Regions from separate parts of the Homo sapiens genome. Here region 2 is linked to region 1. The links come from fine-mapping of genetic effects on gene expression. A gene starts in region 1. The other region holds a variant in brackets. All regions are shown on one strand. Distances are between the middles of the regions. Region 1 holds the start of ITGAV (integrin subunit alpha V). Region 2 has its middle 46 kb from the start of ITGAV.

What was found.
Region 2: its variant is fine-mapped to the expression of ITGAV in subcutaneous fat (TwinsUK, PIP 0.95).

The regions. Positions count from the first base shown.
Region 1 is chr2:186,586,113-186,594,450 of GRCh38, forward strand. It overlaps ITGAV (integrin subunit alpha V), which reads left to right and starts at 3,944. Exons shown (of 30, transcript NM_002210.5): 1 at 3,944-4,411. The coding sequence starts at 4,227. It overlaps LOC124906105 (a long non-coding RNA gene), which reads right to left and starts at 3,784. Exons shown (of 2, transcript XR_007087465.1): 1 at 2,878-3,784. RefSeq lists a silencer at 4,007-4,236 and an enhancer at 4,367-4,426.
Region 2 is chr2:186,539,677-186,548,014 of GRCh38, forward strand. No RefSeq gene overlaps it. Among named protein-coding and RNA genes, the nearest start is that of ITGAV, 46 kb to the right of the region's middle. RefSeq lists enhancers at 2,322-2,831, 2,832-3,339. The variant G/A (reference allele first, on the strand shown) is at 3,434.

The DNA of each region.
Region 1 (8,338 bases):
GGTTATTAACTGAATCTCCTTTGAGGTTCTTTGAGAGAGATAAAATTTGAAATTCCTCTTAAATTATGGACTAAGTTCCTTTGTTTGCAGAGACAGAGCTGCGTGAAGCCCTGGTTTGATTATGGTTATTGAAGGACCTGTTGGACAGACACTAGGGGAACTAAGAGAGTGAAATAATAGTCATAAAAATTTACGGCAGGAGAATTGCTTGAACCCAGGACGCGGAGGTTGCAGTGAGCTGACATGGCGCCACTGCACTCCAGCCTGGTGACAGAGTGACACTTTGTTTCAAAAAAAAAAATTTATTATTGCTACCATGCTAAACTATTAGTCTTAAAAGTATTAATGGCAACAAGAACTGTTCAATTCTAAGAGATAGACATAGTATTACTCCCCTTTCCCTTTCATAGATAAGAAAACTGAGGCACAGATTGGTTGGATTGATTTCCCCAGGGTCATACAACTAGTAGTTGGCAAAGCCAGGAATGGAACCCAGGTGCTTTATTTTACAGAAACCACTGGAATCAAGATTTTTACTAAAGTATAGGGTAGTAGAGGATAAAATTCAAAGTACAAATTCTTTTTACTATCTAATATTTTATTTTCTAAGAAAAGGATTATATTCAATGAATACTTAATGTATACACAGAAGTTCTCCTTTTAAGTTGGAAAACTGTTATAATGTAGTTCAAAGAGTAGTGTCATGGGGGTAGGGGAGGGGCACCACCATTCTTTCGTAGACTAAAACATTCTTTTCTCTGTCCCATGCACATAGTACCAGGTGCAATGTGGATTTTGAATCAGCACTAGCTGAATTGACATGTTCTACAATACAATTTGCAAGGCACTGTGTGAGTGGCTGCTCGAGCATGGTCACACAAAGAGATGCCTGCATTTATAACCCCAAGTTTCTAAAGCCACTGGGTTAGTCTGCTTCATAGTTTCCTAATTGAAATGTATGTTTGCTTTTTTTTGTTGTTAGACAGTCTCGCTCTGTCACCCAGGCTGGAGCACAGTGGCCCACAATACCACAATATCTCGGCTCACTGTAGCCTCTGCCTTCCGGGTTCAAGCAATTCTCCTGCCTCAGTCTCCTGAGTAGCTGAGATTACAGGCACACACCACCATGCCTGGCTACTGTTTTTTCTTTTTTGAGATGGAGTCTCATTCTGTCATCCAGGCTGAAGTGCAGTGGCACGATCTTGGCTCACTGAAACCTCTGCTTCCCAGGTTCAAGTGATTCTCCTGCCTCAGCCTCCCAAGTAGCTGGGATTACAGGTGCCTGCCACTGCACCCAGCTAATTTTTGTATTTTTAGTAGAGATAGGCTTTCACCATCTTGGCCAGGCTGGTCTTGAACTCCTGACATCGTGATCCACCCACTTTGGACTCCCAAAGTGCTGGGATTACAGGTGTGAGTGAGCCACTGCGCCCGGCCAATTTTTGTATTTTTAGTAGAGACGGGGTTTCACTGTGTTGGCCAGGCTGGTCTTGAACTCCTGACCTCAGGTGATCCACCCACCTCGGCCTCCCAAAATGCTGGGATTACAGGCATGAGCCACAGTGCCTGGACTATTTGCTTTTTTAAAAAAAACAAATTCCTTGATTTTCAAGACTGCTCATTCAAAATAAACTCATAAAGAATGGCTCAACAGTAAGTGCTTTCAGTAAGTTGTAGCCCTATTTGGGGGTGTGTTGTTCACCCAAGTTTTGGTGGGTGTACATGTGTTGTCATTTCGTGGGCTTCTTCTTTTCCCTGGTCCTCTCACATTTCTTCACTCCACCTTGGTCTGTCGGACCCCTGTCCTGCGATCAGAAGTTGAGGAGTGGGAGACTTACTGGATCTAGCCAGAGTTTAAACTCTTCTGTCTTCCTTACCTGGATGGATTTCCAGGTAGACTGGTTGTCATGTTTTTAAGATATAAAAGACCCTTTGGGTTTATGCATACATATCAATAGCCTCTTTGGTGTATTAGGAAAGAAGGTGAGAAATAAGCTGTATTTGCATTTATGTGTAAGGATTTGTGTAGGATTTCTTCTCTCAATCAGTAATTTCTTTCAGGCAGATGCTAGACCATGCCTTGTAAAACATGCCAAAGGTTTTGCTGCATATCTTTTAGTCAAATTTAAAAATGGAAATATTTAATGCATTTTTTTTTTGAGATGGAGTCTCACTCTGTGGCCCAGGCTGGAGTGCAGTGGCACCATCTCAGCTTACTGCAGCCTCCGCCTTCCGGGTTCAAGCAATTCTCCTGCCTCAGCCTCCTGAGTAGCTGGGACTGCAGGCGCATGCCGCCACGCCCGGCTAATTTTTTGTATTTTAGTAGAGACGGGATTTCACTGTGTTGCCCAGGCTGGTCTCGAACTCCCGAGCTCAGGCAATTTGCCGGCCTCAGCCTCCCAAAGTGCTAGGACTACAGGCATGAGCCACCTCGCCCGGCCTTTTTTTTTTTTAAACACAGGGTCTTGTTCTGTCACTCAGGCTGGAGTGCAGTGGCAGGCTCATGACTTATCATAACCTGGAACTCCTGAGCCTAAGCGATCTATCTACCTGCCTTAGCCTCCGGCATAGCTGGGACTACAGGCATGCACCACACTCCCAGCTAATTTTTAAATTTTTGTAGAGATGAGGTCTCCCTATGTTCCCCTGGAACTCCCGGTCTCAAGCAATCCTCCTGCCTCAGTCTCCCAAAGTGCTGAGATTGCCAGCATGAGCACCTGGACCTGGTCCAATAAATATTACAAATTCGAATTAGGCATTTCACTTTCATTTATATACATATCCTTTCACAGGATTATTTGATAGTTATTAATGTATATTATGATTGAGTTTTAATAGTTACTTTGGGAAAACAGAAATTACTGTTCCAGTACTTACTTGTAAGTTGTAAGTCCACACAATGCACTTAAACTTCACCTTGTTCAACAGATTCTGTAGCACATGAAACACTTGAAATATGGAAGAGTCACTTCTCTGGGCACTTTGCTCATTTCGTCTGCTATTCATTCACTGATTGGACATTTTATTGATCGACTACTATCTGCTTGGCAAGGTGCTAGAAATAAGAACACTAAGAAAAAGGTCAAGGTTCCTGTCCTCAAGGCCCTCTCTCTCAGTCCAGTGTTGTCAAGGCTTGATGAAACACACCAGTGGCAAACAAGCACGCGGGGCCTTATTTCACCGGTGTGCGGTCCTTCTTCCAGCTCTGAAATTATGTCTATCCAAACATCCTAAATCAACAAATCAGTGTTTCTAAATCATACAACCGCAGCTAACAAACTGGGAATAAGGCTTCGATTATTCTGACTTGATTTAAAACGATCACTGCCAATTCTTTGCCCTGCGAATCCTTTCTTTGACTACTAAGTTAAGCTTTACATACCTCACTTGCAAGAGGCTATGCTGGCTTTCTGGAAATCCGTAATTAAGTTCAGTGTTTGTGGAATGGAGTGTAATTAACGACCATTAATTAACAGGGTTTCGTTCGTGAGAGCCTGCCAGGCTAAGCAGCAGAAACACGAGAAACTGATAAAAAGCTTTCCTCATTTTTAAACAACAGTCGCACGGAAGTTCCCGGCGGGACAAGGGAACGTGGGTGCCCTTGCTACTCCCGTGGACGCGGGTAGATTGGGACGCTGGACCGTATCTCCCCGCCCCCGCCCCCACGCCTCCTCAGGTGCTCAGCCTGAGGCCTTCGTCCAGGAGCGCTGCCGCTGACCCAGGCTCAGGAGCTGGGGGCCCCTGCACAGACGCCCAGGTCTCGGGACAGGCGGCGACTGCACTCACGGAAGTACGCTGAGCTCTCCCCTGTAGAAGGGCGCCTCTCCTCCCCCACTTCCTCCTCCAGCTCCACAGCAGCCTCCCGGGCCGGCTCCTCCTCCTTCCAGGTCTCCTCCCAGTGCCGCCGCGGCTCTCAGGCCTGAGGTGCGGCGCTCACCCCGGCAGTCCCCAGCCTCAGACGCTGCGTGGAGCGGCGGAGCCGGAGGGAAGCAAAGGACCGTCTGCGCTGCTGTCCCCGCCCCGCGCGCTCTGCGCCCCTCGTCCCTGGCGGTCGCTCCGAAGCTCAGCCCTCTTGCCTGCCCCGGAGCTGTCCCGGGCTAGCCGAGAAGAGAGCGGCCGGCAAGTTTGGGCGCGCGCAGGCGGCGGGCCGCGGGCACTGGGCGCCTCGCTGGGGCGGGGGGAGGTGGCTACCGCTCCCGGCTTGGCGTCCCGCGCGCACTTCGGCGATGGCTTTTCCGCCGCGGCGACGGCTGCGCCTCGGTCCCCGCGGCCTCCCGCTTCTTCTCTCGGGACTCCTGCTACCTCTGTGCCGCGCCTTCAACCTAGACGTGGACAGTCCTGCCGAGTACTCTGGCCCCGAGGGAAGTTACTTCGGCTTCGCCGTGGATTTCTTCGTGCCCAGCGCGTCTTCGTAAGTGGCCGCACTTGGAACTGGAGCCGGCCCCCTCCCCCACCGCGCGCACCCACCCAGCGTTTCTCCATTGGGATTGATTTCCGAGAGATCCCGGCGTCTGTCTGTCTCACCCATCCTACCTCTCAGAGTGGTTTATATCCTGGGTGGAGGAAATATTTGGGGAAATGAACTCCCTTTGGTACCCATCACCCAGTTACACCCCGCTTCTCACCTCTTAAAATTGGTTAGGGGCAGCGGGAGAGCTTTGAAGCAGACCTGTGCTTAAAAATCGGGGAAAGTGGGAAATCAACAAAGGCTGGTCTTGCCGGACTCCCCGCCTCCTGTGCCAGTGTCGAGGATTTGGTCAATATCATCCCCGAACTTCTTTTTCTCCTCTACCAGTTAGGCTTCTTGGTAGCCTTTTTCTGCTTTACAGGCTTAACGCCCGTCCTTTTCAGTCTCCCTAAACAAGCCCTCCCCCACTCTTTCCGCCTCTGTCTGATTCTGTTTCTCCTTACTCCTTTTGCAGACATTCTGATGACTTAAAATGACCATACTGTCCTATTGAATTCATTGTGTCTTATCTCTGGGACTGTCAGACATTTGCACATTTGAGGTTGAACAGATGAATTGAATGTGTCATCTGTTCTTTTTATAGTGATTCACTATTTAGGTCATTGTTCAGAAGGAACAAGGGTGTTTGCTGAGTTTTCACTCGCTGCAGGTCATTTGAATACTGCAGTATTTAATAATTCAGTTATGTTTTCAAGTTGCCAACGTTCCGCGTTGCAAGGGCCGTCAGGATTTATAACAGTTATTGCCATTATTGTGTTAGAAATTGTCTCCGACTTTACTGAATGCTGACATCATTCTCACCACCCCACCCCCATGTTAGCGTTAGGAGTACTGTTTTAATGAATGTTGACTGTTTTTTTAATGATGTTTAAATCTTGTTTTCAAGAGAGAAACTGTTCTTAGGGTGCCTTCTAAACGCTTAGACCTTGTAACAACATATTTTTGTTTCCATATTTTCTGTATAAGATATCCCTTCGGGGTGAAGTGGAGGAAAATTTTGACGGTTAGTACGTGGATAGGACCATCTTCTACTACACACATGCCTAATTTGAGGGTGGTCTCAATGGTTTTCTATGACTGTTAGGACACTCAGCAGAATTTAGTCTTAGTGTTTTTCTGAATGTTACTGAGTATCATTCATTTTGGTAACAACCTTTGCAGCAATACATAGATTAGATGCAGTTAATGGAAACTTTGTTAGTGGAGACATTATTTTATGTAGCAAGCTTAGTTTTATTTGTTGTTAGCAGTTACAGTGCTTTCTGTGAGACCTGGAGCACAGATTTTCCAACATGATAAAAATAATCATTATTTAGGCAACATTTACCAATTTCACATTCCATTTAGTCATTTTAGTCAGCATTATCTTTTTATTTATTGTTTTTAACCACAGGGGTGAATACCAAACGTTATCTTTAAACATTTTTGTTTCCAGATACTTTCAAGTGTATACCTTCATGAGACAGAACATTTTAGTTGCTCCCAAGGGTTCAATGTGAGATATAATTTGTAGAGAAATTCTAATGATTTTGAAAATATATGTCTTCAGTCAAAAATTAGCATTTAAATACTTCAGGCCAGGCACAGTGGCTCACACCTGTAATCCCAGCACCTTGGGAGGCCAAGATGGGCAGATTGTCTGAGCTCAGGAATTTGAGACCAACCTGGGCAACATGGTGAAACCCTGTCACTACAAAAAAATACAAAAATTAACCGGGCATGGTGGTGCACACCTGTAATCCTCGCTCTGCGGGAGGCTGAGATGAGAGGATTGCTTGGAAAGTTGAGGTTGCAGTGAATGGAGATTGTGCCACCACACTGTGGCCTGGGCGATAGAGAGAGACTGTCTCAGAAACAAAAACAAAATCAAAAACAACAAACAATAACAACAACAAAATAAAGTTGATGGCAGTGTTTTACAATGTTACTGTTAATTCTTCAGCAGTGCTCTGAGTTTAGTGTAAGATAAATGAGAGGCTGATAAACTTTAAGTGTTTTTTTTTTTTCCATGAAAAATGCAGTGATGTTGAACTCTTCATGATATTTGCTACTGCTGATTACAAACCAGGGTGACTAATCTTTGGCCAGTCATTATAATCAATGAATGTGTTATGACCTCACAGGTTTACATGACTTCACTCATAGACCTTTAATGATAAAGTAAAATTGAACTTGGGTTTGGTTGCATATAATATTTTGAAATATTCATCAGCAACTTTGTTACCGATAGACTACAGAGCTCTAGGTATAGGTAACTTAAAAAATGGAAACCAACCTTGAATTTTTTTCTTTTTTCTTTTTAAACAAAACGTATATAAACACAGGTTTTTACTTACTGAGCTTTTCAGATTTAACAAAAATTTATGTAAAATTTTGCTGAATTTTCTAGAAGGGCACTTTAAATTTAACAAGCATTGGAATCCAAGGTACTTGGGATGCCATTTCCAATATTACCAGTTGGATTTATTGTTATTTGGTATTACCATAAACTTTTAAAAGAAAAAAAGCCACATAATGAAAAAGTATTTGTCAATTCAAGAGCGCCTTTCTTCTGAGGGGAGAAGGATTTGTGAGGAGCAGTGGTTGTGACGTCCACTCCTGTTGCTTTTTCCAGTTTTGGTGTCCACATACCTTGGGGAAGCTGTAGAATTATTTTATGCCTAATTTTTCTCTTTATAGAAAATTATTATTGAATTATCTGCATAGTTCATAGTTTTGTTGTGAAAATTAATGAATCAATATTTATTAAAGGGAAGGACAAAGTACTAAGCAAAATGTTAAGGCGGCCCCTCAAAAAATCACTCCAGAAATGAGTCAGGTTCGAAGTAAAAATTCACAAATATAGTGATTTTCAAAATTATGAAAAAACATTCGCATTCTGTTTTTTTTTCTATAAGCATTTATTTATGCTATGTTGTAAAACTTACATAAAATTTAAAGATTGTATGCAGGCTAATAATTAGAGTCATACTTTTCTTGTGGAGACTAATTGGAAAAATTAAAAATTACATCCTAGGTTTAATTATAATGATGACATCTTATTTTGGTAAACATATTTTATAATTTGCTAAGCACTTATATCTCATTTCATTCTATAGCCCACACCACCGGGGGGAAGTAAGGGGAAGCAGATATACTCATTCTTACAGATGAGGAGGAAATGGAGGCAGAACCGTTTGCAGTCTAGTTATTTGAGTAGGTTGGTGTGAGTAGAGGGTAAGGAAGGGAAGGATCCGAAGACAGGGTGTAAAATTCAAATCCCACTTTTATTAATTCAAATATTGAATTTTTAAAGAAAATAACTGAACAATTTTAAAATTCATTCTTCAAATATATGTTATACAGTTCTCATTTTATGTATTTCTTTATTTTAAAATAATGCTATAATGAATGACACTGGATTCTTGCCTTTCCCCCCATTAAACGCTAATGGAGCCTTATCTTACAGTTGGCAATGTGTAGATGTGTATGCCTTAGAAGCAGAAGGTCCTTCAATGGTTCTCAGTCCTAACTTCATGTTTGCAATATCTGGAAAGCCTTTTAAATAAAACTCTTGCCCTGGCTGTATCTTAAATCTAAAAGTAGATCTCTGACTTGATATTCCAGTGGCCTGGCCTGTGAATCATTTCTCGTTGACTAGCCTGTCTTAACTCAATTTGACTAAAAAGTCTTCACCAAGAGATGTTAGTTGCACCTCTGTTTCTATTAATGCTGGCATCATTTTCTCTGTCACCTTGGAAATACTTTCATATTCCTCCCTCTCATGTTCTATTTTTCTGTGTTTCTCCTACTTCACCACCTTAATATCAGTCAGTGATTAGTCAACAGGCAGAAGCTCCTAGAAATTCTTCCTTTTTAAGGTTTTCTTGA
Region 2 (8,338 bases), 46 kb before region 1:
GACGGAGTTTCACCATGTTGGTCAGGTTGGTCTCAAACTCCTGACCTCGTGATCTGCCCACCTCGGCCTCCCAAAGTGCTGGGATTACAGGCGTGAGCCACCACGCCCAGCCTTAAAAGTTTTTATTATGAGTGAGTGTTGAATTTTGTCAAATGCTTTTTCAGCATCTACTGATATAATCACGTGACTTTTCTTCCTTAGTATGTTGATGTAATGGATTATATTAATTGATTTCCAAATGTTGAACCAGCCTTGTATTTCTAGGATAAATTCTCTTTGGTTATGGTCTATAATTTCCTTTAATACATTGTTGGATTTGATTTGCTACATAATTGAATACATTATTACTATTGTTATTTTGAACAAACCATATTTGTTAGCTCAATTAAGAATAAGGAAAATGAAAGTTTTAACTATATTTATTCCTTCTTGATGTTTTTTTCTTTTTCTTTTTCTTTTTTTTTTTTTTTTTGAGATGGAGTCTCACTGTCACCCAGGCTAGAGTGCAATGATGTGAACTCAGCTCACTGCAACCTCTGCTTCCCGGGTTCAAGCGATTTTCCCACCTCAGCCTCCCAAGTAGCTGGGATTACAGGCATCCGCCATCATGCCCAGCTAAATTTTGTATTTTTGTAGAGACGGGGTTTCTCCATATTGGCCAGGCTGGTCTTGAACTCCTGACCTCAGGTGATCCGCCTGCCTTGACCTCCCAAAGTGCTGGAATTACAGGCATGAGTCACTGCACCCGGCTTTCTTGATGTTCTTTTCTTTATTTATATCTCAGCTTCTGACATATCATTTTCCTTCTTTTCTAAATAACTTCTTTTAACATTTCTTGCATGGCAGAGCTTCTAGCAACAAATTCCCTCAACTCTGTTTGTCTGAGACAGTATTTCTCCTTCACTTTTGGAGAATAATTTTGCAGAGTATTCAGTTCTAGGTCAGTGAGGTTTTTTTTCTCTCAACACTTTAAATATTTACTCCACTCTGCTTGCATGGTTTTTGAGCAGTCAGATGTAGCTCTTATCTTTGCTCCTCTATAAGTAAGGTAATTTTTTCCTCTGGCTTATTTCAAGACTTCTTTTTAAACTTTTGATTTTCTGCAGTTTGAATATGATATGTCTAGTTATAGTTTTTTGGTTTTTGCTTCTTTGGTGAATGATGAACTGCAAGTCTGCTTCTTTAGATCTCAATAAAAGTGGAGGAAACTCCTTTTAACTTTAGGGAACCCCCTTCATCCAAAAGAACACTGTGGAATTTTATTCAAACCCAAATGAGAAAGAGGCAGACTTTAAACACATAATCTCTCATACTTCAATGATGAAAGGAGAAACATGCCAAGAAAATGACAAACACTTAATGCAAATCAGAAAATTCTGCAACTTTGTTGAAAATAGTCTCGGTTTTTTCTGCTGTAATTGGTTTAGTGTTGCAGGATTGACTATAATCCCTGCTCAAAATCAGCCTTAGAGCTGTTTTCGTACTACCAGTTTCAGAAGTCTAGAGTTACATGGCGGCTTGCTGCATAACTTAAGTGTTCCGTGTTCACTGGCCACAAAATTACTTCCATATTCTTATTTGCAATCTTTTGTCAAAGAAAGTGCAGTTTCAGTGTGTGCTGCTTTTACAGAGTTCCATCAGAGTTTCTCTATTTTCTTGTTAATTCAGTGACTCTCATATTTGTCAAGAAGATCTTCATTTCCTAAAATATCATAAGGCCCTCTTTTAGAGAAGAGAGAAGATAATCTTTTTATGAGGTAACAAGGCATTTTTTGGTCATACAAATGAGCAAACGAAGTCTAGTGCTTAAAAGCATGGTTCTGCAGCCAGACTATTCAGAATCAGCTCCCACCTTTCTTCACTACCACTAGCTGTGCATCCTTGGAATTTTCTCTTGGTTTCTCCTTTGTAAAATTGGCATAATAGGTTTGGGTGTCAGGATTAACCAAACATACACATTATAAGATTTTTAGGACCATACTTGACAGAATATACACTCAAATATTATACATCACAATTAAATAAATAACACATGAATGGATTATAGTATTTTTGTAGTTTTCTTCCTAAGTGTAGCTTGCCTTGGGATTCAGCATGACTAAAACACATTTGCATACCTACATCCTTTTTTACCTTTTTTTTTCTTTTTTTTCTTGTGTGGGTTTTTTTTGGCCTTCTCGCAAATAATCCTGGGCTTGTCCCTACAAAAACTAAATGCCTTGGGTTTGTCCCTATAGAAACTCTCTTGTTATCTTAAGGATAGCTCAGTGTTTGAGGGGTGAAAAAGACAAAGCAGAGATGCCTCAGGTAAGATCTTGAGTTCATATTCTCTGACATATACTGGTTGGTTTGTGTTGAGTTAGGGTTGAGTTAATATGTATAAAGTGCTTAAAACAATGCCTGGCTGAAGTGTTTGTTTTCCGTTAGGAGAGAGGGAGAGACAGGAAGAAAGTAGCAAAGAATCTGAGAGGGAACTATCTCCAGTTATCCGAGTCATTACCAAATCCTCCTAACTACCTTGGGGTTGCATCACCCTTTCTCCAAGTTACCTGAACACACTATGCTGTCTCCTGTATCAGGAGCCCTATGAATGCTTGTTGTTCTGCCTGGAATGCTCTTGCCATTGCCAACTCACCCACTCTTTCACCCTTTTTTTTTTCTTTTTTTTGAGACAGAGTTTTGCTCTCACCCAGGCTGGAGTTAAGTGGCGAGATCTCGACTCACTGCAACCTCTGCCTCCCGGGCTCAAGCAATTCTCCTACCTCAACCTCCCAAGTAGCTGGGATTACAGGCATGCACCACCACACCCATCTAATTTTTGTATTTTTAGTAGAGACGGGGTTTCACCATGTTGGGCAGGCTAGTCTTGAACTCCTAACCTCAAGTGATCCACCCGCCTTGGCCTCCCAAAGTGCTGGGATTACAGGTGTAAGCCACGGCGCCTGGCCTACTCTTTCATTTTTTAACCCCTGCTCCTCCTTCAGATCTTAGCACAGATGTTGGTCCTTCCTGAGAGAAGGTTTTCTTTGACTCCTAAGTCCTTTGTTATAAGGACACTTCATAGTACTTAACTTTGTCTGAGATTGTGTTTATGATTATTTGGTTAGTCTGTCCACCTGTGGTTAGTCTCAGACATGCTAACCAATCTGTAAATATTTATTAAATAATAAATCAATATTTCTCTCACACTCACAATTTGAAAATTTTCTTCTTCTCCCTAACTTCTTCACTGTGAATGTCTGAACAGTGACTTAAAGAAGTAGCCGCAGGAGAAAAGAGTTGGGGGCTATTTCATCATGTGGCTACATCATCTCATGGTTACATCATTTCATGGCTACATAACTAGGGCAAAAGGAAAAAAGGCATAAATCTTTTTTTTTTTTCTTTTTTGAGACGGAGTGTCGCTCTGCCACCCAGGCTGGAGTGCAGTGGC[G/A]CGATCTCGGCTCACTGCAACATCCGCCTTCTGGATTCATTCCATTCTCCTGCCTCCTCCCAAGCAGCTGGGACTACAGGTGCCCGCCACCACACCCGGCTAATTTTTTGTATTTTTAGTAGAGACGGGGTTTCACCGTGTTAGCCAGGATGGTCTCGATCTTCTGACCTTGTGATCTGCCCGCCTTGGCCTCCCAAAGTTCTGGGATTACAGGCATAAGCCACCGTATCCGGCTCTTTTTTTTTTTTTTCTTTTAATTTGAGACAGAGTTTTGCTCTTGTTGCCCAGGCTGGAGTTCAGTGGCGCAATCTCGGGTCACTGCAACCTCCGCCTCTCGGGTTCAAGCGATTCTCCTGCCTCAGCCTCCCAAGTAGCTGGGATTATAGGCATGCACCACCACCCTTGGCTAATTTTGTAATTTTAGTAGAGACAGGATTTCACTACGTTGGACGGGCTAGTCTTGAACTCCTGACTTCAGGTAATCCATCTGCCTTGGCCTCCCACAGTGCTGGGATTACAGGCATGAGTTACCGCGCCCAGCCATAAATCTCCTTTGACAAAGTGTAGGATACAAGATTTGGAAGTGTTCCTACAGACTCTCTAGTCCAACTTCTTTGGTACTGACAACACAAGAAAATTCATCATTTAGTGTGTGGGTTGAGGACTTTATCCAGCCACCTTCCAAGCAACAACTCCATATACAAAAAAAAAAAATGTGTTTTAAACTATAAGAGCTTAAATGTGACTCATCAACATCTGCTTTCATTAAATATTTTTCTCTCAGAGACTAAAACCACTTACAAAGTTAGAATAATACTTGCAACTTAACACATGGCAAAGGACAAGTCTTTTATGCCACTTTCTTTGTAATTCTCTCATTTTAAATCTTAAATGACTTTCCTCTATCACAGGACTTTTGTGAGGAATGTTTGAAAGGATCTGTTGACTCATAGCTGCAGAACTGCTTAAGTTTGCTTTAATAAGGGAATAATCAAACGCACATCTAATTTAAGTGGAAAACCACTATATTTTGATATTGTAACCTGAGTATTAGAGGATTAAAAGAATTCCAGGCTGAGGGGAGAAAACTCAAAGTTTATTTTGGTCATCTTTCTTTTTAGTCTCCCTTCTTTCTTCCTAAAACAGAGAAATTTTGCCCTGAAACTGCCTCCTCATTGCCCAGAGCCTTCCGTAATAGTTCTTCAAATAACAGGGCCCTGTGCTGTGTTTCAAACTTTGCTTACTTTATCTGTACATCTCATTCCTGCTCTGTTCTTTCTCTACTCAGTTAAAAAAAAAAGGAAAAACATTTCATTGAAGAACATAATCATTGTTAATGTGTTGATAGGCTAACATCCTGTTTCAACAAGATAATAATACCCTTCACCCAGTTAAAATCTCACATTCCAGAAAGTCCCTCAGGAATGACTAATCTGGGGAATTCCAGTCATGGCATCAGACTCCTGGGTTGAAGTATATTTTAGCAGTTCAGGCTTTCTCTCCTTATCCTTTAAATGACACTGTATAAAGAGCTTCCTGTAATTGACTTTGAGCAAAGTAGACTCTGGAAATCAAACAACCAGTTACTGCCAGTTAAACAGCCTAAGAATCCAAGAGGACAAAAAGTTTTGTGCAAATTAAAAGTTGTTTCCTACTTGTAAATTAAAAGTTGTTTCCCTTCTTGGAGACATCTTCAACAAAGCTAAAGCAAAGGATAGACGAAAATAGCAATCAAAGGATTAGTATTCAGACTATATGAAGAATTTCTACAAATTAAGAAAACGTAAGCAATCCAATAGAAAAACAAGCAAAAGTGATGAAGAGGAAATTCATTAAAAATTAAATGCAAATGATCCACAAACATTTGAAAAGATACTCAGCCCCATTTGTAACCAGAAAAATGCGCATTGAAAAAACAATGAGACATGGTTTTTTGTGTACCAGATTAGCAAATATTTAAAAGTTTGATATTATCAAAATATGAGTAGGAAGTGGGTAATCCTTAGTTTTTTTAATATACTGCTAGTGAGAGTGTAAAGTGATAATGCCATTTGTAAGTATCTACAATGTTTAAAATGTGTGCTCTTTGGAAGCAATTCTATGTCTTCCTATTCATCCTAGAAAATACTTCACATATGCATAATGAAGTATTTATAAGGCTGCTAACTGCAGCATCATTTGTATAACAAAATATGGAATAATACTTCTCTGCTGCTTTATTCTCCAAACTGAAATAAATAAATAGGTGCTAGCACCCTCACATTCTAGAGGAATCCACTAATGATCCCCAAAACTTGTTCCCTAAGGATATCTAAAACTGCAGGCATAATATGGAGAGCGTGACGGAACATAGCCTTAAGAGGACCAGCAAACAAGCAGAGAAAGAATCTGAGTCTTTCAGGATATCATTAATCCAATGGCACTAAACTTGGGAGCCGTTCTACTCTGTTCTACCTAAAAAGGATTTCCTTTTTTAAGGTCATCAATGTCTGTTGCAGGCATTTTTATTAGGTTTCTAGCCTTCTTTGCCCAGTCATCCACTAACCTCTAAACCTGATACCTTCTTCATAGACTTTTATGCCCCATTCACAGTCTTCCTCTGCACCTTAATCCATGTCACTCTCCCTTGGATAAACACTGACATATGAATCATGAAGATACTGAAAGTAACACTAGATAATAAAAACTATATTTTGAGCCCTTATTAGGTGTCAAATGTGAGACGCTTTACATACATTATCCCATTTAATCCTCACATCAGTTCTAAAAGCCAGGAAATAATGTGACCTTCATTGTATGGATGAGGATCAGACATGGAAAAGTTTCGGAACTTGCACAGAGTCACCCAACTAGAAAGTGGTAGAGCTGGGATTCTGACTGCAAAGCTGATGTCTGTAAGCACTGGGTCGTATTCCTAACAGTCTTTCCTCACTGCTTTCTGGACTTCCTGAAGCAGACTTACACCTGTAGGCAAGACCTACCCAGACTCACTTGATGTGGTTTCACTTCCAAGATTTTGATCTCTGGAAATCCACAGGCTGACTTCAACTTCAAATCCTCCATTTCTTCATCATCACTGAACTTGTTTTTAATCCTAATGGTGTTTGTTTGTGTCTTGAACTCTCTCTTTTCTTCAGCTTATCCTCCCTTCTCTGAGTTTATTTTTAATGTAAATAATATGCTAATTCCTGACAGTAATACACTCTTCACCGCCTCACAGCATCCCTTGCCATTTTTCTTTTCTCTCATTCCTGTCTTAGCATTTTTAAGCTCAATATAAAGAAAATATGCTTTCTCTACTGTCACTTTCTGGACATTTAACATTCTTAGGGAAAATGAATATGCTGCGTCTACAGCAATTAATATGTCTAATTTTAACTAAGCTCTCATTACTGCCCAGAAATTATTATATTCAGGTACAGTCAACTCTCAACCTTCCATGTAGCCCTCCTGTCCTTCAGCTCCCACCCTATTTCTGGTAATTTCTCAGAATATACCAATCACTTTCTCATTTCCCAGTAAGATTCAAGATATCAGATGTAGACTTTGTGCAGCTTCATTCTCTCCATCTCAGTATATCTTGTTAATTTTAGTCTGTTCGCCCCTTTCCTTTACTCATGCCTCTAATGATGATGGAAGTCCTCCCTTTACGAGGTTCAACCTGGGCTCTGTTCCCATTCTTCTTCACTTCCTTTAGGATCTTATTCCACCAAGGGCCTCTCTTGATGGTGTTTTAATTTGCTCTCTGTTTGAGTTTCTAAAAATATTCTCTCTCCTTATAAATATCCTTCCTTTGACTTGCTGCCCTCTCAAGTTACTGCCCTCTGTTGTTTCTTCTCTTCTTTGGAAAACATCTTTAAAAAGTAGGCTACCATCATAGCTTCCATTTTTCCTACCACCCACTCATTCCTCAGATCCTTGGAATTTTAACTCCACCCTTGGTTCTCTTTCTAAAACTATTCTCTCAAAGGTCACCAATTACCCCATAATTGGCAAAGCCTACAGTTTTTCTCAGGCCTTTGTGTACCACTCAGCATTGTTGAACACTCCCCTGTTTCTTTTAATTTCTTCCTTCCTTGGTACTGTGACTGGTATCATTCCGGATCTACTTCTGGATCACTAATCTTTCCTTATGTGTTCTTTCCTGTCTTCTCTTCCTTCTTCCATCTGCAAAGCACAGACATCAAGTAAGGCTCATCAGTGCACCTTTCCCCCTATACGCCCTCAAGATTCTTAAGTATCTATATGCATACCATTCTAAATGTACCTAAGGTTGTGTGCAGGGGCTCATGTCTGTAATCCCAGCACTTTGGAAGGCCAAGGTATGTGATTTGCTTAAGCCCAGCAGTCTAAGACCAGCCTGGGCAACACAGTGAGACCCTGTATCTACAAGAAATAAATTAAATTCATTTAAACTAAATTTGAAATATAGATATACTTAAAACCCAGACACCCCTAAGTTCCTGATACACATGGAAAACTACCCTCTATATATCTTCAGTTTATATTTTAAAATAGCTATATCTAGCTATCTAATATCCAGTTTTCTAGGTGAGATAGGTACTGACAAGATTCTTTAAAGAACCCATAGTGAATGGAGAAGTGACAGTCAATTATCTATCTAATATAATTGTAGTAGTAGTAATTATAGCAATGATAGCTAACATTTATTGAATCTTGGAATATATGCCAGCCATCAGGCTAAATGCTTTATATTTAAGAATTTATTAAATCTTCACAACAATTTTATGTGGGAGTTACTTGTACTAGCCTTTTAAGAGGTTCTATACAAAGATTTCTCACAAAGCGTTACAACAACCATTGTAGTAGTTATTCTTATTATCCTAATTTTGAAGATGAGCAAGCCAATGTTTAGAGAGATTAAATATCACATAGCTAGTAAGT